Homo sapiens: one gene and its partners. The protein of the gene in region 4 interacts with the protein of the main gene of each other region in a pairwise test. Each region holds a gene or a part of one and is shown on either strand. Other genes may lie near its edges.

Region 1 (6,913 bases), on a different chromosome or scaffold from region 4:
CTCACCAGTGTTGTTTTGATTCCTTCCAGTTCTAGACCGAGAGGAAACTATATCTCCACCCTCTTCAGTCCTAGGACCCTTAGAAAGAATTTGGCTGGGCCGGATACGGTGGCTCACGCCTGTAATCCCAGCACTCTGGGAGGCTGAGGCAGGCGGATCACAACGTCATGAGTTCGAGACCAGCCTGACCAACATGGTGAAACCCCGTCTCTACTAAAAATACAAAAATTAGCCAGGTGTTGTGGTGTGCGCCTGTAATCCCAGCTACTCAGGAGGCTGAGGTAGGAGAATCGCTTGAAACCGGGACGCAGAGGTTGCAGTGAGCCGAGATCGAGCCACTGCACTCTAGCCTGGGTGACACAGCGAGACTCCGTCTAAAAAAGAAAGAAAGAAATAACAAACTTGGTTGGCTGGCCTCTCGCTGACCAGGGTGCTTCCACAGCTCCCTTCTGCCATCTATGCCCAACAAAAAGTTAAAGAGAAGAGCGTGAGAGGGCAAGGGATGCATGCTTTTGAAAGCCAAAGGGACTCAGCTGAAACTAGCAACCCTCGTCAGAGGCGGATCGGGGTGTGTGTGTGTGTGTGTGTGTGTGTGTGTGTGTGTGTGTGTCTGTGCGCGCGCGCGTCCTTTTTCTCCCCCTGAGGACAGAATCCTGTCTCCACTCTCAGTTCAGCTCAGGTCTTTCCCTGTCCCAGTGTTCTTGATTCTGAATAGGTCCTCTGATGCACCGCCATGCATAAAATGGATGATTTGCAAGCTTCTTTGCCTCACGTAATTCCGTGGGTAATTTGATATCCAGATTCTGCACGAGCCAAAGACTCATTTATTTATAGAAAGTGATTGACCTCCAGCGACCAAAGGAGTGGGTACTGCTTGCTGGGGGCTGCAGACAGGTGAGGCTTCACCCTCGGCGCCTGGGCTCTGGCCTTGGTGCTGAATCCGGAACCCGCTGAGGAACCACCACCTCGGCGGCCCCCAGGCAACTTTCGGGAGGTTTCAGGGGCACCCGGCCAGCTCTGGGCGCCCTCTCGAGCGTCGCCGTCAGGGAGTTGGGCACAACCGATGCCCTGGGACCCGCCACAGGGCACGCGGCTGGCGTATTCCTTTGCCTGGAGCCGGGAAAGTTTTGTCCAATTTTTTTCCCCTATAACTGGAGCTGCGGTCTCCCCTCCCACCTGGGTCGCCATGGAGACTCGAGCTCTTTTTCTTTCTCCAGGCAAAATGGGCGAAGCTCAGTTAGCTCAGCCCTGACTGTAGCAAGCCCTTTTTTCTCCCTAAGCAGTTCCTGGGCATCACCCTTTTCCGTTTCTTTTTTTCAGCAAAAGAAAGGCAGGCAGGGAACAGGGCTAGCAGGATGTGGCATTGCTCCCTGTACCGTAGGGCTCCCCGGGACCGACAGACTTTGGATAACAGCAGTTGGGAAACACTCTAAACATATAATACATCTCCAACTCCCAAACACTGGAGTTGTGGGGTTTTTTTTTTTTTCTCTTCCTTTTTTTGGGGGTTGGAGGCGGAATTCTTTGGAAAATTCTGGTATTTTGTTTCTCCACTAACCTCACCCTCTGTGGCTGTTTCTATTAAGATATATTTTCCCCCTGACAATCTCTCCATATTGCACCTAGTACAACAGATGTACCTGTGGATCCACTGGGCTTTTATTGGGTTTTGGGAATACTGATGTTATTTCACTTAAAAACTAATCCAAGCTTAATGTTTTGATGAAAATGAAAATATATCCACAGGGAAGCAAATATCCACAGCCACCCAGTCCTCTAAATGCCACACACATCTCATTTTATCTAAAGTGTTTTTTCTTCCCTTCCAATTACAAAATAATTCAGTTTACTCCTAGGAAGATCTTCCTATTCACTGTTTTTAGTCATGCTAGCACATCTTCGGTTTTAAGGATAGAGAACAGTTAGGAGTTACAGTATTCTGTTTCCCATTCTCCGCATGTTTCTCCCCAACCCTCACTTTTCCTCCCTTTCGTGTTGTCTCCTCTCCTCTCCATGCAAAGCAGAACAAGAAGACTGCCTTCCACAAAGACAATAGGCTTTTCCCAACTGTAAATGACTACATCACAAGCCGCACCTGTCAGTTAATCAGTGCATTTAAGTCTTTGCCAGCGGATGTTGAAATGATGTCTGCAATAACTGACTGGGTTTCTGCGAGCCCAGGGATGCAGACCCCTCCTTCCCCCGCCCCCCGTGCGAGTTTCAGTCGCTAATGAAAACCGTATGAAACAGATTCCCCTTCTGTTATGTAACCGGCTTCTCCCTCGCCTTTCGGCTGACTTGGGCACAATGTTTCTCATGAGAGTGGAGATGCCTGCGGCGACGGCGGAGCTGGGGAAGGGGACGCGGGGACCCGAGAGCACGGAACGCCTCGCCCAGGTGGACGCCAGCTCCTCGCCTGCGAGCAGCTCAGCGCACCGCTTACCTGGCTGCGGACGGGGTGGCTTCACTCAATCATGATCTCCTCTCTTGAAACGGAGCAAGACTGAACAATTCACTACACGACGGATGGCGAGGGAAGGAAATGCAAAAAAGAAAAGGAAAAGAAAAAAACTGGAATCAGATGGTCAAATTTCACATCAGCACCGAGAGGCTGTTAGGAGACTCCATTCTGCTCGCGGCTGCTCCGGCTCCAGGTCCGGCTTCCCGGCGTCCGCGGGTCTCCACCCCTCCGCCCGCCCAGCCTCTCCAGCCAGGTGCGGCCGTCTCCGGACTGGCTCCCTCTGGCCGAGCGCGGAGAGCAGGGCTGGGCGCTGGGGCCAAGGGAGGGGCGGAGGGGCGCGCGTTTGGGCAGGGACGGGGGAGGGAGACTGGGTGGAATGAAGTGGGGAAAGATAAGAGTGGCAGAAGAAAAAAAAAATCCCCGGTTAGGAGAAAAGTGGTGGACCACGCAGAGAGACGTCATGAAATCCGCAGATTCAATGAATGCTACTCAATTCCAGCCGACTGGCTGAGCCCCGCTGGCAGCGCACGAAGCGACGCGGCTCCGAGATAAAAGCGAGTGCAGCGCCGCGTGCTGGGGAAAAAGCCGCACAGCGCCGGCGCGGTCCGGGAGGAAGGGGCGGGGGCGAGCAGGACAGAGCCACAGACCCAGAGACGCCCACCCCGCCGCCCATGCCAGCTAGCGTGTCAGCGCGTCGAGGACCGGGCTTGGTGGGGGCGGGCTGGGCACAAACCAACGTGCATCCCCCGCCACTGGAAACGTGGGTGCTCCATGCTGGGGGAATCTTTTGGGTTTCGGTCCCCGACCCCCCAGTCCCAACCTTTCTCCCAGTGCCACTAAGTAAGTTATTCCCGGAGAAACGCCTGGAAAGCAGGAAAGAGCCGAAGCTCGGGGAGCAGTTTTGTCTGCTGGTTGTAGGGGTTCGGCTTTTAGGGTTTTGTGAGATAAGGAAAAAGAGGCTCTGGGCACTGCCTCCCACCGGGCTGAAATCCGTGAGAGGCAGCCCCGGCGCGGGAGCCGGAGCCTGCACCGCCCAGAGGGGGCGCAGCGAGCGGCCGGGACGGAGGGGAGGGGCCCTATCCCTGAGCTTTGCTTGCACCTGGTGGCGCCCCAGCCTGCTGCCCCATTCAGTCCCTTCTGTCCTGTCCACTGCAACTGGGACCTGGTCCCGGCTGCTGCATCATCACCCCATCCTTATATGATGTCTCTGGGGTCACTGGAGACAAAGAATGGCCTTTTCCAAGAATGACCCAGGCTGCCTTCAAAGTTGAATTTGTCAGGATAAGCCCCTTAGACAAAGGTCTACTCCACTCTTTGAATCTAACTTGCTTTGTGCTGTTATTCCAGGGGCCCCTCATAGTGCTCCCCTCTTGCACCCCCTCTTTTTCTTATGGTCATCAAAAACAATGGTTCTACATTTCCAAAGTCTTCCCATAAATTGCTTCTACCTATGAACAGAACTCTCTTTTATGCTGTCTTTTTCCTAGGGATGAATGGATTGACAAATTGTAAGAGTAGCGAATACCATTGGCTAGTAATTTTATAATGGCCCTTTCAATAACTGGCTATTCTTGTGCTGCTTTATGAAGTGGCTTTCCTTCCACAAGGCACAGAATCTCTACCTCAAAGAAGGTGACCTTATTTTAGAGAGAAGGCTTACGGAAACCTCTTATTTCCAAGATTATTTTATTCTACATACATACATTTTAATTACCTAGCAATTCAGGTCCCCTCAAGAATGCTGTCTGCCCTCTAAAAATGACTGTAATATGGAGAGGTGTTTGTGTCAATTTGCATCCAAAGTCATGTAAAAGTCAACCGTACACACGGCCTGTGAGCTTGTATTTGCTGTTGATTTTCCCTAAGAGGTTGTAATCTGACTTGCTATTACTTCTGAGTCATATATCCCATATACAGAAGATATGAGTATGTGTAATATCTGTAGTATGTGTAATACGTGCTCCACAATGCCTGCTGGATCTAGTGATAGTGTTACAAATAAACAAAGAACAACTGAACCAAATAATCCCTGAGAGACCAGGAATACAAATGCAAGATGCAGGATTTCGGTGGACACAGCCTTAGAACATTAAAAGAACAACCCATGTTGACTATAGTTGTGTAAAGGGCATTCTGTTTAATCTGTGAAGCTGCTATGGGTATGCCTGCTAATTTTGATGATATATACTTTTACCAGTAGAATGATTTCACAAAGTATCTTTCTTACAAGATATTAGACTAAATAAGAAAGTCAAGAGTTGGAAGTAACCTATTTGTCTCCTTCAAATACTTTGAAAACTCCCCTACTTGAAACAGCTGCCGGGGTGATGTGGGCAATAGCACTTTGTGAATGGCATAAGAGCACGTGTTGAATGAGATGGATCCCATTAACACAGCCTGGGATTTGATAAACACCAGAGACAAGAGCAATTGGCTTAACTGAATTCATTCATTTATTCCGTAGAGTTCTGATAAAGTGATCTGCATGGGTGTAACTAAGAGACTGCAGCCACATCTGAAAATCAGGCGAGCTGTGCTTCAGAGCTGCAAATTGTGGCTCCTCTGAGCTCCTGAGAGCCTGGTCTCTCAAACTACATTGTGTTTAGCTTGTCTGAAATCTCACTTATATATCTATTTTATGATTTCAGGTGAAGGCAAGGCCTGGGGGAGAAGATCTTTCAGGGTAAATCAGTGCTCCAAATCTCACAGTGACTTTTATAATTGATTGATTATGTCATACAGATGAGACTGGTTTGTCTCCCACATATAAAGCTGTAATGGAGACTTATTAGCTAGTAAAATTAACAAACTGAATTATCTTGACGGGCTGTCATTTGTTTTGGGTAATCTTGTTTTTCTCTGTCATTGATTGCGGCAATTTATAAACCATTCTATCTTCTTGGCCCATGTGTAGATCTGGCCTTGCCTTAGACAGGCTGACACCAGAACTAAGATGGTTGGGAGTTTTTGGTCTCCACCCTTGGGCCAGTACTTGTTTTAGATTTAAGACCTTAGCTGTTGTGGGTCTAACTATTAAGAGACCTAGTTCTTTTTCAGTTTCACTCCCCTGCCTGCTTTCTCCACAAAAACCCTACCACAGATAAACAATATATTTAAAATGCAGAGATGGGAACATAAATTTTAAAAAATTTATTTTGTCTATAAAAGGACATCTTAAAGAGTATCAAGAGATAAGTGTTAAAATTATTCTATTTTACATTTGTACTTCCAGTGTACTGAATGTGATATAGGAGTTAAGAAGCAATTACTTAGGCAGATAGTAAGGGTATGGGAGTCCTAGGTAAGGCTTTTCTTTTTAATGAAAATCAGCCCCAAATAATTTTCTAAGAGAGCAAGCAGCCTGCAAGCTGGGAGCTTGCACAGGTGAATGCGGGCAGGAACTAAGGACTAAAGATGTTAAATATGGCGGTCCCATCTTCCCGTCTCTGTTAGCCACGTGTACTGTAAACGAGCAGACAAGATGGTGCCAATCAACTGGAAAGTCCATTTGCATAAGAAGATTAGGGTGGGGCAACTAGCCTTCCCAGCACACTATGTAGACATCATACCTGAGTGAACCAACCTGTGAGCCCTCTGTAAATCAGACACCGCCTTCTCCAGCCTGCGTATAAAATCTGCTGCGGTCCTCTACCTTCTCCCTTTTCCACGTGTCTCTTGCTCGTGAGGAGCTGCTCTCCCCTCCTCTCTCCTTTCTTCTATTACACTTTCTGCTCCTTAACCCACTCACCTGTGTCTGTGTGCCGAATTCTTTCTCAGTGCATGACAATGAACCCCAGGGTATATACCACAGACAGCAGTAGCCACTTCAGATGGATTTCATTCATGTCTCTTATTTAGGGAATATCTGTAAACAGCGGTTGGTATTTCTTTGATTGATTATAAATTTGGAGATGTATTAAGAAATACATCTTAATTCTTAAGAAATATTTCTAGGTGTAAAAAGTTAAGAATTTTTGCTAAGGAGGGGGTTTCAGAGGGGTTTTAGCTCTGAGGCATTTTGGGGCTGGTCTTTAGAACTTTAGGATAATTTAGAACAATTATTGAGTTATGCCCTTTTCCCTTGATACACTTTTATCTCCTACGTGTTTTCCTTATTTTTGTTACAGTAGGTAGCTAGTCAGACATGAGCAGGGCAGAAGAGGGCCTTCCCCACCAGGCATGCCAGGAGACCGTCAGGTGATGGTCAGGCAGTTGTTAAACTGTCCGTCTACAATAATAATTGGTCACAGCTGGCACCAGAAAAAGTGGTCTCCCAATAGACAGAAACACCGAAGCTGGTGATCAGCAGCTTCCTGATGACATCTCAGGACTTAGGTGAGTGGGCTCAAGCATGTGGACTAAGGCAAAATGGCACAGTTTAACTGTCATCTAACCTTCTTCTAGGAACACTTGGCTGGTAAGGGAAGAACGCCTCAAGTGAGCATGCATACA
Region 2 (7,028 bases), about 150 Mb from region 4:
CTGGCCTTAGGAGGTTAACTAACTCTTTAGCCTGAAGCTGTTGGCAAGTCAGATACCACATGCCAAGTAACGTGCCACAGTAGTATTGCTTGGATCTTAGAAAATTATGGGATAATAATTACAGCAACTTTGCTCTAGGACCTTTGGAAGGAGTTCCCTCTGTTTCAAAGAAGTACAGCTAAAAATGGCTTTTCCTCCTCCTTACTCAGATATAGGAGGTATAGTAATGGTGAGGCTCTGGAGTCGGACTGCATGGGTTTGATTCCTAGTTTACTAGTTTACGCTTAGTAGCTCTGTGACCTACAGCTTTAATCATGCTGAGTCCCAGTTTCCTAATTTGTAAAATGCAATAATATCTGTATTACAGAATTGTTGTAAGGTTAAATAACATATGCAAAGTTCTTAGAGTAGTGGTTGGCACATAGAAAATGCTCAATAAAAATAAGTTTCGTTACAATTGAAAGATTAATAAAAAGAAAACAGACCTTTCACCTAAATATCAGGTGACTTCCCCTTTTCTCAAATTCCCAAGAAAAAAAATATAGTAGCATAAGATTTTATTTTTTTTTGAGATAGGATCTTGCTCTGTCTCCCAGGCTGGAGTGTAGTAGTGTAATCATGGTTCACAGCAGCCTGAAACTTCTGGGCTGAAGCAATCCTCCCGCCTCAGCCTCCCAAGTAGCTGGGACTACAGGTGTGCACCACCACATCCGGCTAATTTTTGTATTTTTTGTAGAGACAGGGTTTCACCATGTTGCCCAGGCTGGTATCCAACTCCTGAGCTCAAGCAATCTGCCTGCCTTCGCCTCCCAAAGTGCTGGGATTACAGGTGTAAGCCACTGTGCCTGGCCAGCATAGGATTTAAAATTTTAAAGTTGTTTCCTTGGCAAATGTCAATATATACTAACCTCCCGTGTAATAGCCATAAGCATAAAGAACTCGTCCAACAATCCAGGCCAAGCCCAGGCCAGAAGCTATACGCTAAGAAAAAAGGGCTACATTAGTATTTGCATGAAAGAAACAAGCAAACCTTTTTTAACACCTAGGGTTGATTACACAATATGTTAGCAAAAAGTTAACAATTTGATGATTTGGCCAACTACTCCCCACGCAAATTAGGTAGAATTAAGTTAGTTTCAGCGGGAAAATAAAATATCTGTGATTCTTCTATGAATGGCTTGGCTTGTGGACCTGGGAGATGAGTATTGGCCTTCTCCTAGACAGGTGGGATAGAAGGAATCCCCCCACTTGCCCTGGGCATCTTGGGGAACTTGTGTCAGAGCTCAAGAGAAGGACATGTGGGCCAGCCGGTCTCAGGGCAGGCCAGAAAAGAGAACTGCCCCAAAGTCAGGACTAGGGGAAATGCCGTTTTCTCAAATGGGCCTCTGAGCATGAGATTGACTGAAGACTCAGCTGCTGTTCTATGTGAAGTCAGTCACTGGCAGGGCTGGGCTCAGGTGGTTCTGCAGGCTACACTGGGGGTGTAGCTCCACTAGAAAGAAGGGGAGCGCTTCTCCCAGAATACATGGTCTTCGAGGGAAAAGTCTCCCTGTTCCCAATGTCCTTGAGAAGAGAGAATAAAAACTTAGATGAAAAATCCATCCCTTTGGCTGTCATGCTGGGGTGACTTCCTTGGTTAAAATAAGCAAGGAGAGAACACAGAAGACAGCATGTGAGAAGGCCGCCTTCCCCAGTGTCTTTCCCACTCAGCAGTGCTACTGTTAGGGATAAGGTTACTGCATCAGGGTTTTTGTTTGTTTGAGTTGATTTTGGGTAACATTAAATGTCAACAGGAGGGTGAAACAAATGAAAATAACACCAGTCCCTCAAGTCACGATATAGCAGCTCTAGTCTCTGCCAGGCCCTTCTTTACTATAATGTTGCCTAATGACTGGCAACCTAGGAACAATTGTTAGGTGCTTGTCCCCAAACTAGCTCTTATTTTTCAGAACTACCCATAAGGAATGGGATCCAGGGATGTGTGATAGGAATGGGGATGGAGTGGGGACACCAAATGAGGACTAATCTAGAGACCTGAGCTATTCAGATCAGCTAGTCTAGTCACTTGCTAGGAATGGGGATCTTTAGAGGCACCAGAAAGATACATTTTCTAAGAGATACAAGAGCAGTAGATGTTTCTTTGAAAAAAATGCAGGCCTTCAAGGTCATAAGCAGTAGATATGCCATTCTGGCAGCTTTTTAACAAAAGTACAAGGCATTCAGGATGAACCAGATGGTTAGGAAAGGCTTAGAACCAGAAGTCTGAAGGGCCACTCTGGTCAGAACTTGGTTTCAGGAGATAATCTGTCCTCAGAAAAGGGGAACACTTCTGTCTAAGACAAGACCCAAATGGCAATTAATTAGAGGCTGATAAACTTGCTTTATTTAGATATGTTTAAGTGCAGACTAAATCTCCATCCCACAGGGCTATCTATACTGCAGAGGCCTGCAAGTCCCCAGTGACCTGCCTCATCACCCCTCTGCCCTCTGTTGCTGCCCCTCTCCTGGCTCCATTGGCTTCTCACTGCTCACCAAACAAACCAGACAGGTGCCTGCCTCAGGCCTTGCTTGTCTTCTGGCTGGAGGTTGGGGAAACTCGTGCAGCACCTGCTCCCTCACCTCCTTTTATACTTGCTTAACTATCATCTCAGCAAAGCCCCCCTCCCTGACCACCCTATTCAAAATTATCCCACTCCACATCCCCTTTCCACCTTCCCCACTTTGTTTTCTTCTCTGCACTCACCACCTCCTAACACATGATGTAATTTACTTAGGTTGCTTCTTCTCTGTGACCACCCCACACCCCACAACAAAAAGGCAAGCTCTATGAAACCAGGGGTCTTTGTCTGCTTTGATCACTGCTTTACCCCAGGTGGTGAGTGAAAGTTTGTTGTGTGAATGAATTACTATAACAAATGAACTCTTATAGACATGAAACTTAGAACCAGACAGACCTGAGTTCAAATTCTAATCCTTCTACTCTGTAGCTATTTGACCTTGTGAAGTTTAAATAGTATATGAGAGGCTTTTCCTTATCTGTAAAATATGAGGAAAATCCCATCTCCTTTAAAGAACTCTGTAAGAAATAATTGAATAAAATCCTTTTAAATATGCAGTGCCTAGACACTGAAGATATTCATTAAATGTTTATTTCCTTCTTCTGTCCCTGATAATAGCTCAGTGAACTACTATCCAAATAGATGAACACCTCCTGGAAAACTTACCGGGTGGTAAACACCTCCAACAGCTAGAAAAAATAAGAAGGGAGGATACACTTCCAACCTGGAATTGACAGAAAGAAACTTTTAAAAAGTGCCCTTTTTAAGTATGCCTGTGTAGAATTATGAATTTTTTTTTTTTTTTTTTTGAGACGGAGTGTCTCTGTCACCCAGGCTGGAATGCAGTGGCATGATCTCAGCTCACTGCAACCTCCGCCTCCCGGGTTCAAGTAATTCTCATGCCTCAGCTTCCTGAGTAGCTGGGATTACAGGTGCGTGCCACCATGCCTGGCTAAGTTTTGTAGAGATGGGGTTTTGCCATGTTGACCAAGCTTGTCTCCAACTCCTGACCTCAAGTGATCCACCCACCTCGGCCTCCCAAAGTGCTGGGATTACAGGTGTGAGCCCACCTCACCCAGCCAGCACTATGAATCTTTACATCTTCCTTGCCAAGTTAGAAGCTTGGGGGTAAAAATAAACATTCACCGCAGGGAGAAGACCTGGTCACTATCATCCACCCTCCTTTGCTCTGCATGGGATTAGAGGTCACTTGGAACATGCTGAGTAAAAGGACCTCACATCTAACAAATGGAAGTGGAAGGTCCTGGTGAGTCAGAGTGGGTTTCCTTACAGCATTCAAAACCTCTTCACTCCCTAGGCCTGGGAGAGTCAACATCGGTTTAGATGGGTCATGCTGCAAAACTGTAGTAGGTAATGCAACCATGAAGACATTTTTTGAAAAGAATATCCCGAAATCCCACCATTCCAACCACTCTTAAGTTTGCTTAATAGTCAATGTGTTCACATACATAATTTTTGAATACTTTTAATGAGGTGCCCATGATTGTCACCATCACTATGACTCAGCAAATACAGCGCACTAAGGGCTGAGGTGTTAGACAGAAAACACCCACTCTGCAGATGTCTTTGGTGCCCGGCAGGGCCGACACTCACGTGTTCTGGTGGGCTCGCTGAATGCAGTTGAAGATGTGCCCATTTTCAGGGTCCGTGCTGTACATGATAGGATACTGTCACAACAAAGCACATACTGATCAGATGGTCAAGAGGAGCATTCAGTGTTGAAAGTTAAAATGAACCTTAAAAACAATATATTCCAAAGTATCTTCTTTCACACCCTTGATAGATGACCATTCAATTTCTGCTTAAATATTTATGGTGACAAGGGTCTCAATTCTCAGAAGCAGAGTCAATGTTTCTATTAAATATCCAGGAATAAGAATGTATGTCTGCGCTGTAGTTGCACAAGGGAAAGAGGCAGCTTTGCGCCAAACTCCGTGCTTTTCATTGACGTTAAGCATCAATGGTGGATTTCAGATGCATTACAAAGATACTGTAGGGAAATAGAGCCTTCCTAAGAGTCATCAAATACCACATCCTTTTAAGATTTCCCTTAATAGAAGAACAGAAATTGAGTGTGTGAGAATCTTAATGGAAGTGTCCACTGGAAGGGAAAAAAAAGAAGAAACTAAATATAAAAACTTAAAAGAAGCTCTAGTAAGGGAGTTTAATTATTAAGTTGCTAAACAGAAACAGACATTTAAAACCACTCACCAGGGACAACTTTGGTAATTATCCCTTCTAGATCACCTAAAACTAAAGGAAGTGTTTAATAGACCACCTTCCTATGTCTAAGTCCAGGCTAATCTCAACACCACATACCTCTTTTCTACTTGGAAAACAGGAAAATCACCATAAGACATCATTTTTAAAGTGGCACACCATGAAACAATATTGCTATTTAACCCTCTGTGGAAAATACAGTAACTCTCTTCCTAGCAAATAGCTCCAAGCAGAAGTGTACTATTGGAATCCCAGCATTCCTGGTCTTTCTACCGAAGAGACAAAGTCAAACAAGATGGAAACTACTCCCTAGCAGGGCCCTGTATTTCTTGCCTCTTTCCTACCATGAAGAAGCAGAATCGCTAACACAGTCCTGAAACTGCCACTTCTCACAACTAGCTCCTTGCCTCTCCCTCCATGGCTGAAAATAAGTTCTTGGCTAAGCCTGTGGCCCCCAGACAAGCCTACAAGGGCACCAGCTTGTGTTCCCACTTACCTCCACTTTGTACTTCTTGCGGGCCTTGGAAACATTGATGGCTAGGTGGGCCACCATTATAAAGCTGGCAGCACCAGTTAGAAGCACAAAACCATATTCCTTAGAGAGGACAGCCATCTTGCGTCTGTGGAAGAAAGAACACGTTGGGACGGCCCCCAGCACTGTGGCTATTTCATGGTGTGAAGCCTTAGGGAGCAAGATGCTTTATTACTGGCAAATGAGTAAATAGAGACCAAAAAAAGGTATGAATCAATCTGATGTTTCTGAGAAGTCATCAAAGACAGTACCATATAAAATAATTTAAAAATTACTCAACTATGCAGTCTATACACAGAAAAGTATACAGTCATGTATCTTTTTTTCTCTTTTGTGCCTGGGAGATTCTGATCAACATTATGAGATTTATCTACACCACTGCAGTAGTCGTTGCTGTAGAATAATATAGCCAACAAAAATCACATTATTGAAAAAATATTTAACATGGTAAAATGCTAAAGTATACATTACATAGGGAGGGGGAGGGAGGGAGTGAGAGGAGCAGGACATGGTGGGGAGAGGGATGGAGAGGGAGAGAGAGGGAGTGGGGAGGGAGGAGAGGGAGAGAGAGAGAGAGAGAAAGCAAGAAAGTGAGAAAGCAAGAAAGCGAGCATCCAAAATAGTATATGCACAGTGATTCCAAGTTTTTTGCCTTCAGACATGGGGGACACTGTGAGGGCAGGACTCTGAGGCCTCCCTTCGATCCTGGGGCACGTGCGGGTGCAGCAGCAGACATCTCACACAGGTAGGGGAAGGCCCAGGTTGAGTACTCTGAAAGCAGAGCATGGCTCCTGAGCCTATGAGGCTTTGGGCAGCTCCTGAGGAACTCAGATTGCCCATCAAATCATCACTTCAAAGGCTTCCACGAGCCAGCAGCTCTGGTGTGTGTTCTGCCGTCAGCTTTAAAATTTCCATCCCTGGTAATTGCCTGGCTTCAGTCCCTGCTTTTAACCTAGGAGAGTTACCCTGATCTGGAATGTATCTAATCATCCTAACAAACCAACCAACAAGATGGTAAATCCTTATTTTCAAAAGAGGTTAAGTAATGTTTCCAAGGTCTAAAACAGACAGTGACAGACCTGGGATTCCCATTCAGATTCATTTGGTTCCAATATTCCCTTTCAGTATCCCTTGAAACTTTAGAGCCAAACTGACACTGTGGTCAGAGCATCTTCCTTAAAACAGAATTTGGGATAGGCATGCAGCTCAGTTCATTAAAAGTAAGTTTCTCTTAGCACAGCAAAATAGGCCTAACTGCTTTTTTTTTTTTGAGATGGAGTTTCACTCTTGTCGCCCGGGCTGGAGTGCAGTGGCACGATCTCGGCTCACTGCAACCTCCATCTCCCGGGTTCAAGTGATTCTCCTGCCTCAGCCTCCCAAGTAGCTGGGATTACAGATGCGCACCACCACACCCAGCTAATTTTTGTATTTTTAGTAGAAACGAGGTTTTGCCATGTTGGCCAGGCTATTCTTGAACTCCTGAGCTCAGATGATCCACCCACCTCGGCCTCCCAAAGTGCTGGGATTACAGGTGTGAGCCACCGCACCCAGCCTAACAGGCCTAACTTCTTAAAACCCCTCCTCCCCACCATGATTCACAATAATTCTCATCAGTTTTCCCCTTCTACCGTCTTCACTCTGAGCTGCTCTCTGAGGCATGCCCGCTGCCCCTCCGGGGGCTGGGGGGCACACACTGC
Region 3 (7,028 bases), on a different chromosome or scaffold from region 4:
AAAATTACTTTCATTGCCTTGAGGCTTATTTTTGTTAAATATGCATTAACTACTTAAATAAACCGATATTGTTACCATACATATCACCTTTCACCAAGTCCTAAAGGAAATAATGGGAGCAGGCAGCATTCTTACTTGAGGTACATTCTATTTGTTCAATAGAGTTCTCTGGAAAAATGCTGAATTTGTATAGCTGGATACATGGTTTGTGGCGGGGGACGGGGGAAGGCGGTGTGTGTTTCAAAAATAAGTACCATGAAATTCACAGAAACAAATCTGACCTTGTCAAGTGCTTGCTTGATGCATGTACCTCCATTTCATTACTTTTGTACTCATTTAATTCTTTACGAATTGCTGCCTGAAATTTAAAAACAAGACATTGTTTTACAGGATATTAAAAAAATCAGGAAATTAGCATCGTGTTTATAAATTAACCATTCCTAATCCTTGTTGACTCTATTATGTAATATACAGAAAAAAACAAACAATTTTTTGGTTCATCATTAAAACTGCCATACTCATTATTATAGTCCTACCAAGCTAGTATGTAGCTAATATTCTGGAAGTCTTTGTAAAAATTTTATTGATACATAATATTTGTACATATATACAGGGTACATGTGATATTTTGTTATATGCATAGACTGTGTGATGATCAAGTATTTAGGATGTCTACCTCCAGTATTTATCATTTCTATGTGTTGGGAACATTTTAAGTCCTCTCTTCTAGCTGTTTTGAAATATACACAACATAGTTGTTAACTGTAGTGACCCTACTCTGCTATAGAACATTAGAACTTATTCCTTCTAATTGTATGTTACTACTGGTTAACCAACCTCTCTTTCTCTCCCCAAACCCTGCCACCCTTCCCAGCCTTTGGTATCTATCATTCTACTGTCTACCTCCATGACATCAACTTTTTTGATCCCACATGAGTGAGAACATGCGATATTTGTTTTTCTGTGCCTGGCTTATTTAACATAATAACATCCAGTTCCATACATGTTGTCAAAAATGACTGGATTTTCTTAAGGTGGAATATTCCATTTTGTGTGGCTGTGTATACACACTGTATTCACATATACATATATACACGCACTACATTTTCTTTATCCATTAATCTATTGATGGACACTTGGATGATTTTGTATCTTGGCTATTGTTAATAATGCTGCAGTGAACAGGGGAGTACAGATATCTCTTCAATGTACTGATTTGATTTCCTTTGCGTGTATACCTAGAAGTGGCATTTCTGGATCATATAGTTTTTAAACAATATTTTGAGGAGTCTCCATACTGTTTTCCATAATGGCTGCATTAATTTACATTCCCATCAACAGTATATAAAAGTTCACTTTTCTCCTAATCCTTTCCAGCATGTTTTTATTTTTTTAATAACTATTCTAACTGGAATAAGATGATATCTCATCGTGGTTTTGATTTGCATTTCCCTGTTGATTAATGATGTTGAGCATTTTTTCCATATACCTGTTGGCGATTTGTATGTCATCTTTTGAGAAATGTCTACTCATGTCTTTTGTCTACTTTCTAATGGGATTATTTGTTTTGTTTTTTGACTGTTGAGTTCCTTGTATATTCTGGATATTAGTCCCTTTTTGGATGAATAGTTTGCAGATATTAATATTTTCTCATATTCCCTGTTGTCTCTTTACTCTGTTGATTTGTTGTGTAGAAGCTTTGTAGTTTAATATAGTCTCATTTGTTTATTTTGGTTGCTATCTGTGCTTTTGAGGTCTTAGCCATAAAATGTTTGCCTAGACCAATGTCCTGGACTGTTTCTTCTGTGTTTTCTTTTAGTGGTTTTATAGTTTGGGGTCTTACATTTAAGTCTTTATTCTTCAAGTTGATTTTTGTATATAGTAAGAAATAGGGGTACAGTTTCATTCTTTTGCCATATGGATATCCAATTTTCCCAGCACCATTTATTGAAGAGTGTCCTTTCCCCAGTTTATGTTCTTGGCACCTTTGTCAAAAATCAGTTGGCTGTAAATAAGTGAATTTTTTCTGGGTTTTCTATTCTTTTCCATTGGTCTATGTGTCTTTTATACCAATATTATGCTGGTAGTATAACCTTATAATACATTTTGAAGTTAGTGTGATGCCTCCAGCTTTGTTCTTTTTGCTAAGGATTACTTTGGCTATTCAGGTTCTTTTTGGGTTTCACATGAATTTTAGGATGGCTTTTACTATTTTTGTGAAAAATGACATTGGTATTTTGATAGGGATTGCATTGGTCATTTTATGGTCATTTTAGCAGTATTAGTCCTTTCTATCCATGAGCATGAGATATCTTTCCATTTGTGTGTGGCCTCTTCAATTTCTTTCATCATTGTTTTGTAGTTTTCCTTGTAGAGGTCTTTCACCTCCTTGGTTCAATTCATTTTCAGGTATTTTTGGTACCTATTTTAAATAAGATTGCCTTCTTGATTTCTTTCTTAGCTAGTCCATTATTAGTTTATAGAAATGCTACTAATTTTTGTGTGATTTTGTGTATCCTATGGCTTTAGTGAATTTATCAGATCTAAGTTTTTGGTGGAGTCTTTAGGTTTCTCTAGGTATAAGATCATATTGTCTGTAAAGAGGGATAACTTGACTTTCTCTTTTCCAGTTTGGATGCCCTTTCTTTCTGTTGCTCGATTGCTCTGGCTAGGACTAGTATTATGTAAGTGTTCCATTCATTAATTTGCTGAACTGTAGTGGGAAGACAACCCTTCCCCAAACTCCGTTCACTCCATACCTAAACGGACCAAGCACATGCTTAGGGCACTAATGAAACAGGAACACCAAGATAATGAGTAAACTTCAGCTTTTGGTGAACTTGGAATTTTATAATCAGAGATAATCTAGAAATAAGCCTTTCTAACTTCAGCATACATTAATATTTTGGCTTCCCCAGGCCCACTTGCATCATGTACTTCTTTCTCAGATAAACACTCGAGGGACCTGATGAGACTGAAAACATCAAACACAGCCTCTGGGACAAGGAAAGTCTTTAAGAACTTTAGGGGTATATTATTCTCATACTCAAACACATCTGCAGACCACCAAAGATACTTCTCCTCGCATCACTGTGATCCTCTGGGCACATCAGTCACAAAGAACCAGGCAAGTTAGTCCAACACGTTCACATTTCTCCAAGTTGATGCAATATCTGTGTACATACTCATACTCAGCATATGAAGAATGAAGAACAATTAGCAAATTCCTTGCCTGAATGTATAATTTTTCTCTTCCTAAAGGCTTTAAGTCTTCTGAAAATTAATAGAAGCAAGAAGGTGACAAAACTCTATGGACACTCTTGGGCTTAAATCTTGCCAGTCAAGTGTTTGATCACAGACAAGAACTGACCCTCTCTGTGCTCACCAAATGTCATGCAGAGACTCTATGACCTACTACCTCCTTGTGTTCTTCCTGCCTCTCTAGCTGTTCAGTTCAGACTTCTTAGGAGGTTCTCAGAGATACCTCAAACTGCACAAGTCCAGGGGGAGAATCTAGAACCTTTTCTATACTGTAGAGGCTTTCTTGAATGCCTCTTTGTCCCCACTGTAGCTCTTTTTGTTTAAACTTGTCAGTTGATCTCTTATGGCAGCCTTGCCCACCTTTGATTTATCCCTTATACCAAGGTTTCTCAATTTCCACAGTCTTGACATTTGGTACTAGATAATCCTTTGTTGTGGGGGCTGTTATGTGCATTGTGAGATGCTGAGCAGTGTCCCTGGCCTCTACCAGGAGATGCCAGTAGCATCCCGAGTTGTGACAATCAAAAATGTCTCTAGACATTGCCAAATGTCCCTCGGGGCAAAACTGTCACCTAGCTGAGAACCACTTCTCAATCTGACCCTGAATTATCTTTGAGAAACCAATATTTACTGCAGTATACCCTTAAATAGTTGAGGGCTCCCATTGTCTATGAATAAACTCCCTGGCATGACATATTTTGCCTTTATTATATCATCCAACACCCCCCACCAGCACAGGCAGTTAGGTACCTTATCTGCTGCTGACAGTCTCGTCCAGGGTTTGTCTGCCCTCCTGTCATAGTCCTGCGCTTTTGCTACTTCCACGTAATCACTGAATCGTATCAGAATTTTTCTGTCTCTTAATTCATCAACAGTGGGTCTCTGATTAAGCTAAAATTAAAGATCATCATAGTTAAGTATCACATGCCAAACTAGCTTTTTTGAAGTACTCTGAACAAACAGCACTTCTCTTAAAAAACAAAACAAAACAAAAAAAACCTGAAACTGGAAAATATAACCCAAATACAAGCAATCTCTAATGTGAAGGGCTGAAATTATATACTGTACTCTTAAATCACAATCCCCCTTCCTCCAACATATTTTATCAGAAGGAGTCACACCCCCAGTAGTACATAGCACCAGCTCAAGGAATGGTTAGTGAATTAACTTAGATTTTATGGCATCACTGGCTTCAGATACAATTAGATAAGCTTTTTAAAAGTACTAATAAAGTTATTATATGTCCAGCTTAGGAAGGATATTCTGTTAATTTCAAGAGAATTATTATGGAGCAGCACAACGAAGAAGGGGAATCCAGAACACTTGAATTTAGAAATGGTCAAGGCTTTAAAAGTAGATTAAGATTTATAGAGTTGCTACCTGTATTGGCCATAGTAAATGTTAACTGTTTGAGTCACAGAGAACAAACCTTTGAGTCTAATAAAGCTTTCTGCAACTGAGGAACTTCTAGACATATTGGAGGTGAACAAAAGCGATGAGTGTAAAATGTGACTAAAACACTGATACCCAGGTATGCTTTTCCTAGACACTGTAAATTAAGAAAATGCCAATCAACTTCTGGCTTCCACCTGAACATAAGTAAAAAATGTCATGTGCATTGTGCACCTCTCCAAGTGCTACCGTGCTAGGGAAGGACTTCGTCCATAGGGAACGTCAGAGGGAGTTAATTCATTGTTGCTGAGCAAATATCCTGATTTAACTGATGCCATGATGTCCAGGAGAACATTATTCATGATCACAGAGTGATACCTAGCATTACCCATCCCACCTGCTACCGAAGCAGCTGTTCTCTAGACCACCTTTTATTATTCAGGCAATAAAATGCTTATACTACCTTTCTTGTCAATCTTTGCTTGATTTCTCTTCTTTCTTCCTGCTCTGTCTGATCATTCCTTTCTGTGAAAGATTAAAATAGGAAAAAAAAAATAACAAAGAGAAACAGGTTGAAACGTTCTTCTCTTCAGCAGGGAAGTGTTCCCAAGATATCCATATTTCTGGGAGCTGAAGTTAATTCCACATCACTCATGGTGTTTTCTTCCCACTTTGTCAGTCACTGCTCAGGAGATCATGGTCTCATTACACAGAAATACTTGTACTAAGCAAAGCTTTGCTGTCATCCCAACCTGGTCTCCTCAGCCCTTCTGTGCATTAGAAACAACCACAGATATGGCTGCTGTTTGTTTAAGGAAGTAGACACCTCTGTGTCTGTCTTTCTCCCCAAATATCTTTATATTTACATCTAGCACTTAGATGCCACATAAAAAAAGCTGTAGTAGACTAAGTAAATAAATGTATATGTACATTTCAATATAAATAGCACTGCCACTAATTTTTTTCCTTAATAAGCGTACAGACTTTTTAACCAACATAAAACATGGAACACCTTCTTCAGCTCCTGGGCAGCATATGCTTGCCTGGAATTTATATGTTCAGACTATATTTCAAATCTTAACACATCTATGAACCTCGCTGACTCTCCATTGCTGAAGCGTGAACACTGTTATATGACAGTGCCTTTTAAAGGAGCCCAAGTCCCTCAGCAAAATTAGCTTTGCTTGGTAAGTTGTGACTATTAACATTCAAGCTGTGCTCGCACCTACCCTTGGAAGCCAAAAATAGACGAAAGTGCTGAGATATAGTATAAAACGTAAGCTTCCCCCTGGGATACAAGATAATGGCTGTCCTATTTCTGGTGTTCTCTGTTGCTAAATAAAGCCTTATGTCCCTGACCTGAACATAGCTCCATTCCTAGGAAAGAGATTTCAACAATCAGCACTCCTAGAAACACTGGTAGGTTTTGGTAAGGGAAATCCTGCCACTTGCAATTAACACAATTTCACATTATCTGCCTTTATGTAAAAGATGCGTTTCAAATATTTATACATTTGTGGGATTGGTTATATGAGAGTTTAATATATTGTGCTTTCCAGTAATTTTTTTTAAGTGAGTCATCTTGGATTAGGGTGTTTTAGAAAAGGTAATGAAATCCTCTTTCTGCTTAATTCTTTATACAAGTGAGAAACCAGAAGAAACCATACTTTTAAGGTATCATCAGAAAGCTGATACAATTAGAGAGACATTGTGAAAGTGTCCAGACAAGGCAAGCCATGAGGGATTTACGTGACGTAAAATGTTTCAGATTTCTTTAAAATAGGCCATGGGCAGCTCCCAAGTGCAGCTTCCATGTGAAAAGATTGAAACAAAGTCAGATCTTTTTTTTTTTTTTAATCCTGAAAAATGCCATAATTACTACGAAGGTCACCAGCAGGGTCTTTGGAGAACTGATCTTTGAAAGTTCCTGTCAGAGTGCTGCTTTGTGCCAGGCGCTCTGTTGGAGACCTCCTCCAAGAAGTCCTCCCTGTTAGCCTAAGCCCACAGACCTCCCCTTCTGAGCTCCCCTTAGTGATATGTTTATGGATTTCTTATTTCCAGACCCAGAACACCCTCTGCATTATACAAAGCAAGGGACCCATAATCAGGACTGCTATACTCATATTTTCTGGAAATAGCTCCAGCAGCTTGGACAGTTATACCTGAGACTTCCATGAATATCCAGAAATGTATTACTGCTTCTGATGCAGTAGTTAAGAAGATGGGCAATGGAGTTAGGCAGACCTGGGGTTGAACTCTAGTGCTATCCTTTTCCCAATATTCATTTATTAAAAAGTGCAAACCTCACAAATATGTTGCAATGATTAAATGAGGGAATATATACCAAGTACTGAATATAGTCCCTGGCACAGATT
Region 4 (7,028 bases):
TGACCTTTGGCTGGAGTCTCCAAGAACACCTCCTTAGATCACTCGGCAAAAAGCAATGTAAGCGGCCAGGTATGGTGGCTCACGCCTGTAATCCCAGCACTTTGGGAGGCTGAAGCAGGTGGATCACCTGAGGTCAGGGGTTCGAGACCAGCCTGACCAACATGGAGAAACCCCATCTCCACTAAAAATACAAAAAATTAGCCGGGTGTAGTGGCGCATGTCTGTAATCCCAGCTACTCGGGAGGCTGAGGCAGAAGAACCGCTTGAACCCTGGAGGCAGAGGATGTGGTGAGCCGAGATCGTGCCATTGCACTCCAGCCTGGGCAACAAGAGCAAAACTCCGTCTCAAGAAAAAAAAAGGCCAGGCACAGTGGCTCACGCTGTAATTCCAGCACTTTGGGAGGCCACAGCGGGTGGATCAACTGAGGTCAGGAAGTCAAGACCAGCCTGACCAACACGGAGAAACCCCATCTCTACTAAAAATACAAAAAAAAATTAGCCGGGCATGGTGGTGCACGCCTGTAATCCCAGCTACTCGGGAGGCTGAGGCAGGAGAATCGCTTGAACCAGGAGGCAGAGGTTGCAGTGAGCAGAGGTCGCACCATTGTACTCCAGCCTGGTCAACAAGAGCTAAACTCTGTCTTTTGAAAAAAAAAAAAAAAAAAAGTGATGTAAGCAAGGTTGAGCAGAGATCTCTGTCCCCACCCCAAAACCAAGAGCAACCCACTCTGGGGAGGAAAAAGATCTGGTTATCTGACACAAGAAAACAGTAGAGCCCTTGGGGAGAAAGCTGTTTCCTAGCATTTGATACATGGCCCAAGGCTTCATGTGCTCTACCTGATTCAGAGACGTGGCCCATCTGGGAATTTCCTTTTAGGCATTCCTCCTCTCCCAACCCCATTTTCTGAATGAGCTTACACAGTGAAATACTGGGCCGGTTCTCCACACGGCAGCCAGAATGAATCTGTTAAGACTTAAGTCAAAAAGTTGGCAAGACGCAGAGCAACTGGAACACTTGCTGGGGGGAGTGTAAAGAAGTACAACCACTTCAGAAAACAGTTTGGCAGTTTCTCATAAAATTAAACATCATCTGCCCTGTGACCCAGCAATTCTACTCCTGGGCATTTACCCAAGAAAAATGAAAACAAATATCCACAAAAAGACTTGAACATGAATGTTCAGACGTAATAGCCAAAATATGGAAGCAATCCAAATGTCCCTGAAAAGGAGAATGGATAAAAAGAAGTTGTGGTATGTTACAATGGAATGCTAGTCAGCAAAAAAAGGAACTACTGATACACGCAATAAAACAATGAATCTCAAAAACATCACGCTGAGCAAAAGAAGCCAGACGAGAGCTCAGACTGAAATAAATACACATACATACATACATACATAGTTCATAGTGAAAGGTTCCATTTATATGACAGGCAAAACTAATCTCTGTGAGAGGAATCAGAACAGTGGTTCTTTTCCTGTCTCTGGATGGGGGCAGGGAGTGTGGGATTGACAGGCAAGAAGCACTGGGAAGCTTTTGGGGGTGATGGAAGTGTTCTGGATGATGACGGGGTGTGGGTTATGCAACTGTATACATTTATCAAAATTCATCAAGCTGCAACACTAAAAACCTGTGCATTTCACTGTGTGTCAATTATATGTCAATAAAAGACAATGTTTAAAAAATCTTAAACCAGATTATGTCACTACTCTGCTCAGTATATTTCAATGCCTTCCCATTTGTTCACTGGATATTTACTAAGTAATATTACATGCCAGGCAGTGCTCTGGGTGCTAGGGGTTCAGCTAATACCAGAGACAGAAATCCCTGACTGCAGGGAGGGAGCTCGCAGTCGAAGGGGGAAGATAATTAACCAATTAAGTACTTTATATGGCACATTAGAAGGTAACATGTGCTATGAGGAAAACTAATGCAGAGAAGAGCAGCAGGGGAAGTATCAGGTGGGGGCACGGAGTGGGTGTGTAATTTTAAGCAAGGTAGAAAGCAAGGCCTCACTGAGCAGCTGACATTTGGGCAAATAGGTGAAGGAAGTGAGAAAGTGAACCACATGGTTAGAAGCAGGAAAAGCATTTCAAACAGAGGAAGCTGCATCTACAAAGGACCTGAGGGAGGGGCAGGAGGGGTTGTGCATGCTCCTGGACTAGAAAGGGCAGTGTGGCTGGCCCAGGATGAGCAGGAAGAAAGGAGGAGGGTGGGTCAGAGAACTGGGGGGAGGGCAAAAGGTGGGCAAAGAATGTAGGGCCCTAGGGAGTCACTGTAAAGACCCTGGCCTTTACTCTGAGCAAGATGGGAGCCACTGAAGAGTTCTAAGCAGGACTGACAGGGCTGCCCTATATTTTAACAGAATTACTCTGGTGGCTGAGTGGGAACAGCCTGAATGGGACCAGAACAGAGGTAAAGAGACCAGTTGGGAGCCTGCCGCAAAAATCCAGGGACAGATGATCACAGTGGTGGCTGGACACGGTAAGAAGTGGTCAGATCCTACATGCATTTTGAAAGGAGAGTCAACAGAATTTGCTGATGAACTGGATGTGAGACGTGGGAGTCAAGGACGATGCCCACAGCTTTTGGCCTGAAGAACTAGGATGAAGCTGCCATTGAGCAAAATGGGGAAAAAGCTGTGGGCGAAGCAGGTTTCCTTGGGGAGAAGATCAGAATTTGGTCTCAGACATGTTAAGCTTGAGATGTTTATGAGACAGTTCTAGGAGAAGTTGCTGAGCAAGAAGTTGGATATGAGTCTGGAGTTTAAGAGTCACTAGCTTAACAGATGGCATCTGAAGCCATGAGCTACATCACCAAGGGAGTACATGGAGATAGAGAAAAGAGGCCCAAGGACTGAGCCCTGGAGGTTGGGGAGTAGGACTGGTTAAGATCGCCATGACAGAGACCCTGCCTAACTCACCAACTGTGTCTCATGCCCCCTCTGGCTCACACAGACCTTTCAGTAGATCCTAGCCAATGTCACACTCTCTCTCACCCACCACATTTGCACTTAGTGGTCCTTCAGCCCTGGAGGACTCAGCATCACAATCAGACTCCAATTCCACCCCGTGGCCAGCTCCTTATCCTTCCGTCTTCAAGTCCTAGTTTGAACGTCACTTTCACAAAGACAGCCTCTTCCCTTCACCACCACCTTGTACTTTCTATTACACCACCTCATTGATTTCCTTCACTGAACTTTTTATAATTAGCTGCCAGGCCACCACAGCCTTTTGATTTTCCTCTTACTCCTCTGGATGCTTGCTCACATCCCCTTTACCTGTGCCTTTTCTTCCCCCACCTCTAATGTGGGAGTGTCCCAGGGCTCAGACCAGGACTGACTTTTCTACCAACACTCCCTCCCCCTTGATGACCTCACCCAGTCCTACAACTTTATCTATAGACCAATGACTCCCAGATATGTAATCTCTAGCCCAGGCTTCTCTGAACTTGAACTACCCATTTGACATCTTTGTTAGGAGATTTAATAGACATTAAGATGTCCAAAGTTGGCCAGGCGCAGTGGCTCATGCCTGTAATCCCAGCACTTTGGTAGGCCAAGGTGGGTGGATCACCTGAGGTCAGGAGTTTGAGACCAGTCTGGACAACATGGTGAAACACCGTCTCTGCTAAAAATACAAAATTAGCCAGGCATGGTGGCAGACGCCTGTAATCCCAGCTACTTGGGAGGCTGAGAATCACTTGAACCCGGGAGGCAGAGGCTGCAGTGAGCCGAGATCATGCCACTGCACTCCAGCCTGGGAGACGGAGTGAGACTCTGTCTCAAAACAAACAAAAAACAAAACAAAAAACCACGAAGTCAATTGCTTGCTTTTCCCCCAAAACTTGTTCTATCCCCAGCCTTGCCCTTCTCACATGATGACATCACTCCAGATGGTATCTTCCAGTTCTCAGGTCAAAACCTTTGAGTTATGCTTATGCAGCTATTGATAGGCAATGGTATGATTAACTGGGGCCTTAAAGATGATGAAGATATGACATTTACAAGGTGGACAGGCATGATTATTGGGCCACCAAGGACAAATTATGAAAAGAGAATATAGGCCGGGCATGGCAGTTCACACCTATAATCCCAGAACTTTGGGAGGCCAAGGAGGGCAGATCACGAGGTCAGGAGTTTGAGACTAGTCTGCCCAACATAGTGAAACCTCATCTCTACTAAAAATACAAAAAATTAGCTGGGTGTGGTGGTGTGCACCTGTAATCCCAGCTACTCGGGAAGCTGAGGCAGGAGAATCACATGAACCTAGGAAGCAGAGGTTGCAGTGAGCCGAGATCACGCCACTGCGCTCCCGTGTGGGCCACAGCGCGAGCCTCTGTCTCAAAAATAAAAAAAAAGAATATATAGCCTGAAAATAGAAAGTGGACCCAAATACCCAGAAGCTCCCCCATCAGTTAGATTTGTAACAAGAATTAATATGAATGGAATAAATAACTCCAGTGGGATGGTGGATGACCGCAGCACACCAGTGTTAGCAAAATGACAAAATTCATATAGCATTAAAGTTGTACTTCAGGAGCTAAGACGTCTAATGATGTCCAAAGAAAATATGAAGCTTCCACAGCCACTGGAAGGACAAACATACAACAATTAATTTTAGTGGATCTCAAACTTGTCTTATATCAACAACCTTCTACTCGTGTTAATGTCTTGATTAAATATCACAATGCAAAATACCCACACGTTAAATAAAAGAACTCCGGCTGGTAAACATGACCTGGACATTTGTAAGAATATATTTAATATATGTACACCCATTATGTTTTCAGGTAACAGGAAAAATGCAACCCAATTTTTTTCTCTTGTTAAGGTACTGTCATTTAAACATAAACTTGGAGTACTCGAAATATAATTCAGGTTTACAAGATGAAAGCGTGGTAAGAAGTGTCAGATGGCAGTGGAAGCATGTGTGTTTCTAAAGACTAAAAATCTCAATAAAGAAAACAGGGCTGGGCACAGTGGCTCATGTCTGTAATCCCAGCACTTTGGGAGGCTCAGGCGAGCAGATCACTTGAGGCCAGGAGTTCAAGACCAGCCTGGCCAACATAGTGAAAGTCCGTCCCTACAAAAAATCCAAAAATTAACCAGGCGTGGTAGCACGCGCCTGTAGTCCCAGCTACTTAGGAGACTGAGGTAGGATGATCGCTTGATCCCGGGAGGCAGAAGTTGCAGTGAGCTGAGATCGCACCACTGCACTCTAGCCTGAGTGACAGAGTAAGACCCCCATCTCAAACAAAAAAGGAAAGGAAAAAGAAAACAGAGGCCAGGAGAGGTGGCTCACACCTTTAATGCCAGCACTTTGGGAGGCCAAGGTGGGCAGATCACCTGAGGTCAGGAGTTTGAGACCAGCCTGACCAACATGGAGAAACCCTGTCTCTACTAAAAATACAAAATTAGCAGGGCGTGGTGGCCCATGCCTGTAATCCCAGCTACTTGGGAGGCGGAGGCAGAACTGCTTGAACCCCGGAGGTGGAGGTTGTGGTGAGCCGAGATCGTGCCATTGTACTCCAGCCTGGGCAACAAGAGCAAAATTCTGTCTCAAGAAAAAAGAAAACAGAAATGGCATGCTTTATCCATCTTGCTTAGTGAAAGAGAGCTGCAGTTGAAATTGTTTAAAAAGTAGCAGGTATTGGCCAGGCATAGTGGCTCACGCCTGTAATCCCAGCACTTTAGGAGGCCAAGGAGGGTTGATCACTTGAGGTGAGGAGTTAGAGAGACCAGCCTGGCCAACATGGCGAAACCCCGTCTCTACTAAAAATACAAAAATTAGCCAGGCGGGCACCTGTAATCCCAGCTACTGGGATTATACTTGAACCTGGGAGGCGGAGATTGTGGTAAGCCAAGATCGCACCACTGTACCCCAGCCTAGGCGACAGAGCAAGACTCCGTTAAATTAAAAAAAAAAAAAAAAGTAGCAGGTACAATGAACACTGTCACAAATGTGTTTGATTTTTTTAATTTTTTTTATTTTTTTGAGATGGAGTCTTGTTCTGTTGCCCAGGCTGGAATGCAGTGATGAGATCTTGGCTCACTACAACCTCCCAGGTTCAAGCGATTCTCCTACCTCAGCCTCCCAAGTAGCTGGGACTACAGGCATGCACCACCATGCCCAGCTTATTTTTGTATTTTTAGTAGAGATGGGGTTTCACCATGCTGGCCAGGCTGGTCTCGAACTCCTGAACTCAGGTGATCTGCCTGCCTCAGCCTCCCAAAGTGTTGGGATTATGGGTAAAAACTACCACATCCAGCACAAATGTGTTAATTTTTGAAGTGGTGTGGGTGCTGACTACTAGTAGTATGAAAAATATGTTCAGGATTGTTTTGATACCTATCTTATAATAAAAAATGTTGGGGGGGAGTTGATGAATTTCTGTTAAAAGCTGTTCATGTGTGTTACACGTAACAGACATGGTAAATATTTGCTTACAGTTTTTTTTTTTTAACAAACTATGCACTTAAGGTTAAGTGACATCAACAAAAAAGGGATACATATATGGAGATATAATTTTGAAACTAAAGTTGGTCTTTTTTTTTTTTTTTTGAGATGGAGCCTCTCTCTGTTGCCCAGGCTGGAATGCAGTGGCATGATCTCAGCTCACTGCAACCTCTGCCTACTGGGCTCAAGCAATCCTCCTGCCTCAGCCTCCCGAGTAGCTAGGACTACAGGCACATGCCACCACGCCTGGCTAATTTTTGTATTTTTAGTACAGACAAGGTTTCACCATGTTGGCCAGGCTGGTCTGGAACTCCTGATCTCAAGTGATCCACTTGCCTTGGCCTCCCGAAGTGCTGAGATTACAGGCATGAGGCACAGCACCCAGCCCAAAGTTAGTCTGAAAATGTAAATAAAATGTGGAATGTGTCCAAGAAAAAAAAAAACCTTTGAGTTATGCTTAATTCCTCTGTTTCTCTTTACCTCACATCCAATCCATCAGCAAACCCTGTCTACCTTCAAAGCATATTTAGAATCTGGCTACTTACCTCTTCCACTACCACCCGCTAGATACA

Evidence for each region.
Region 1: the proteins of UBIAD1 (region 4) and KCNJ6 interact in binary tests that used the Homo sapiens proteins (3 or more experiments, as listed by UniProt).
Region 2: the proteins of UBIAD1 (region 4) and MGST3 interact in binary tests that used the Homo sapiens proteins (3 or more experiments, as listed by UniProt).
Region 3: the proteins of UBIAD1 (region 4) and PHACTR3 interact in binary tests that used the Homo sapiens proteins (3 or more experiments, as listed by UniProt).

The regions. Positions count from the first base shown.
Region 1 is NC_000021.9:37,913,441-37,920,353, forward strand, and holds the start of KCNJ6 (G protein-activated inward rectifier potassium channel 2), read right to left. Parts: upstream 3,018-6,913; 5' UTR 2,444-3,017; intron 1-2,443. UniProt on the Homo sapiens protein: Inward rectifier potassium channels are characterized by a greater tendency to allow potassium to flow into the cell rather than out of it.
Region 2 is NC_000001.11:165,648,232-165,655,259, reverse strand, and holds part of MGST3 (glutathione S-transferase 3, mitochondrial), read right to left. Parts: intron 5,420-7,028; coding exon of another isoform or gene 5,413-5,419; coding exon 5,296-5,412; intron 4,247-5,295; coding exon 4,173-4,246; intron 3,283-4,172; coding exon 3,225-3,282; intron 982-3,224; coding exon 909-981; intron 1-908. UniProt on the Homo sapiens protein: Displays both glutathione S-transferase and glutathione peroxidase activities toward oxyeicosanoids, as part of cellular detoxification as well as synthesis of bioactive metabolites.
Region 3 is NC_000020.11:59,838,519-59,845,546, reverse strand, and holds part of PHACTR3 (phosphatase and actin regulator 3), read right to left. Parts: intron 5,179-7,028; coding exon 5,117-5,178; intron 4,153-5,116; coding exon 4,012-4,152; intron 359-4,011; coding exon 282-358; intron 1-281.
Region 4 is NC_000001.11:11,276,197-11,283,224, reverse strand, and holds part of UBIAD1 (ubiA prenyltransferase domain-containing protein 1), read right to left. Parts: intron 4,812-7,028; exon of another isoform or gene 4,352-4,811; intron 4,049-4,351; exon of another isoform or gene 3,950-4,048; intron 1-3,949. UniProt on the Homo sapiens protein: Prenyltransferase that mediates the formation of menaquinone-4 (MK-4) and coenzyme Q10. MK-4 is a vitamin K2 isoform present at high concentrations in the brain, kidney and pancreas, and is required for endothelial cell development.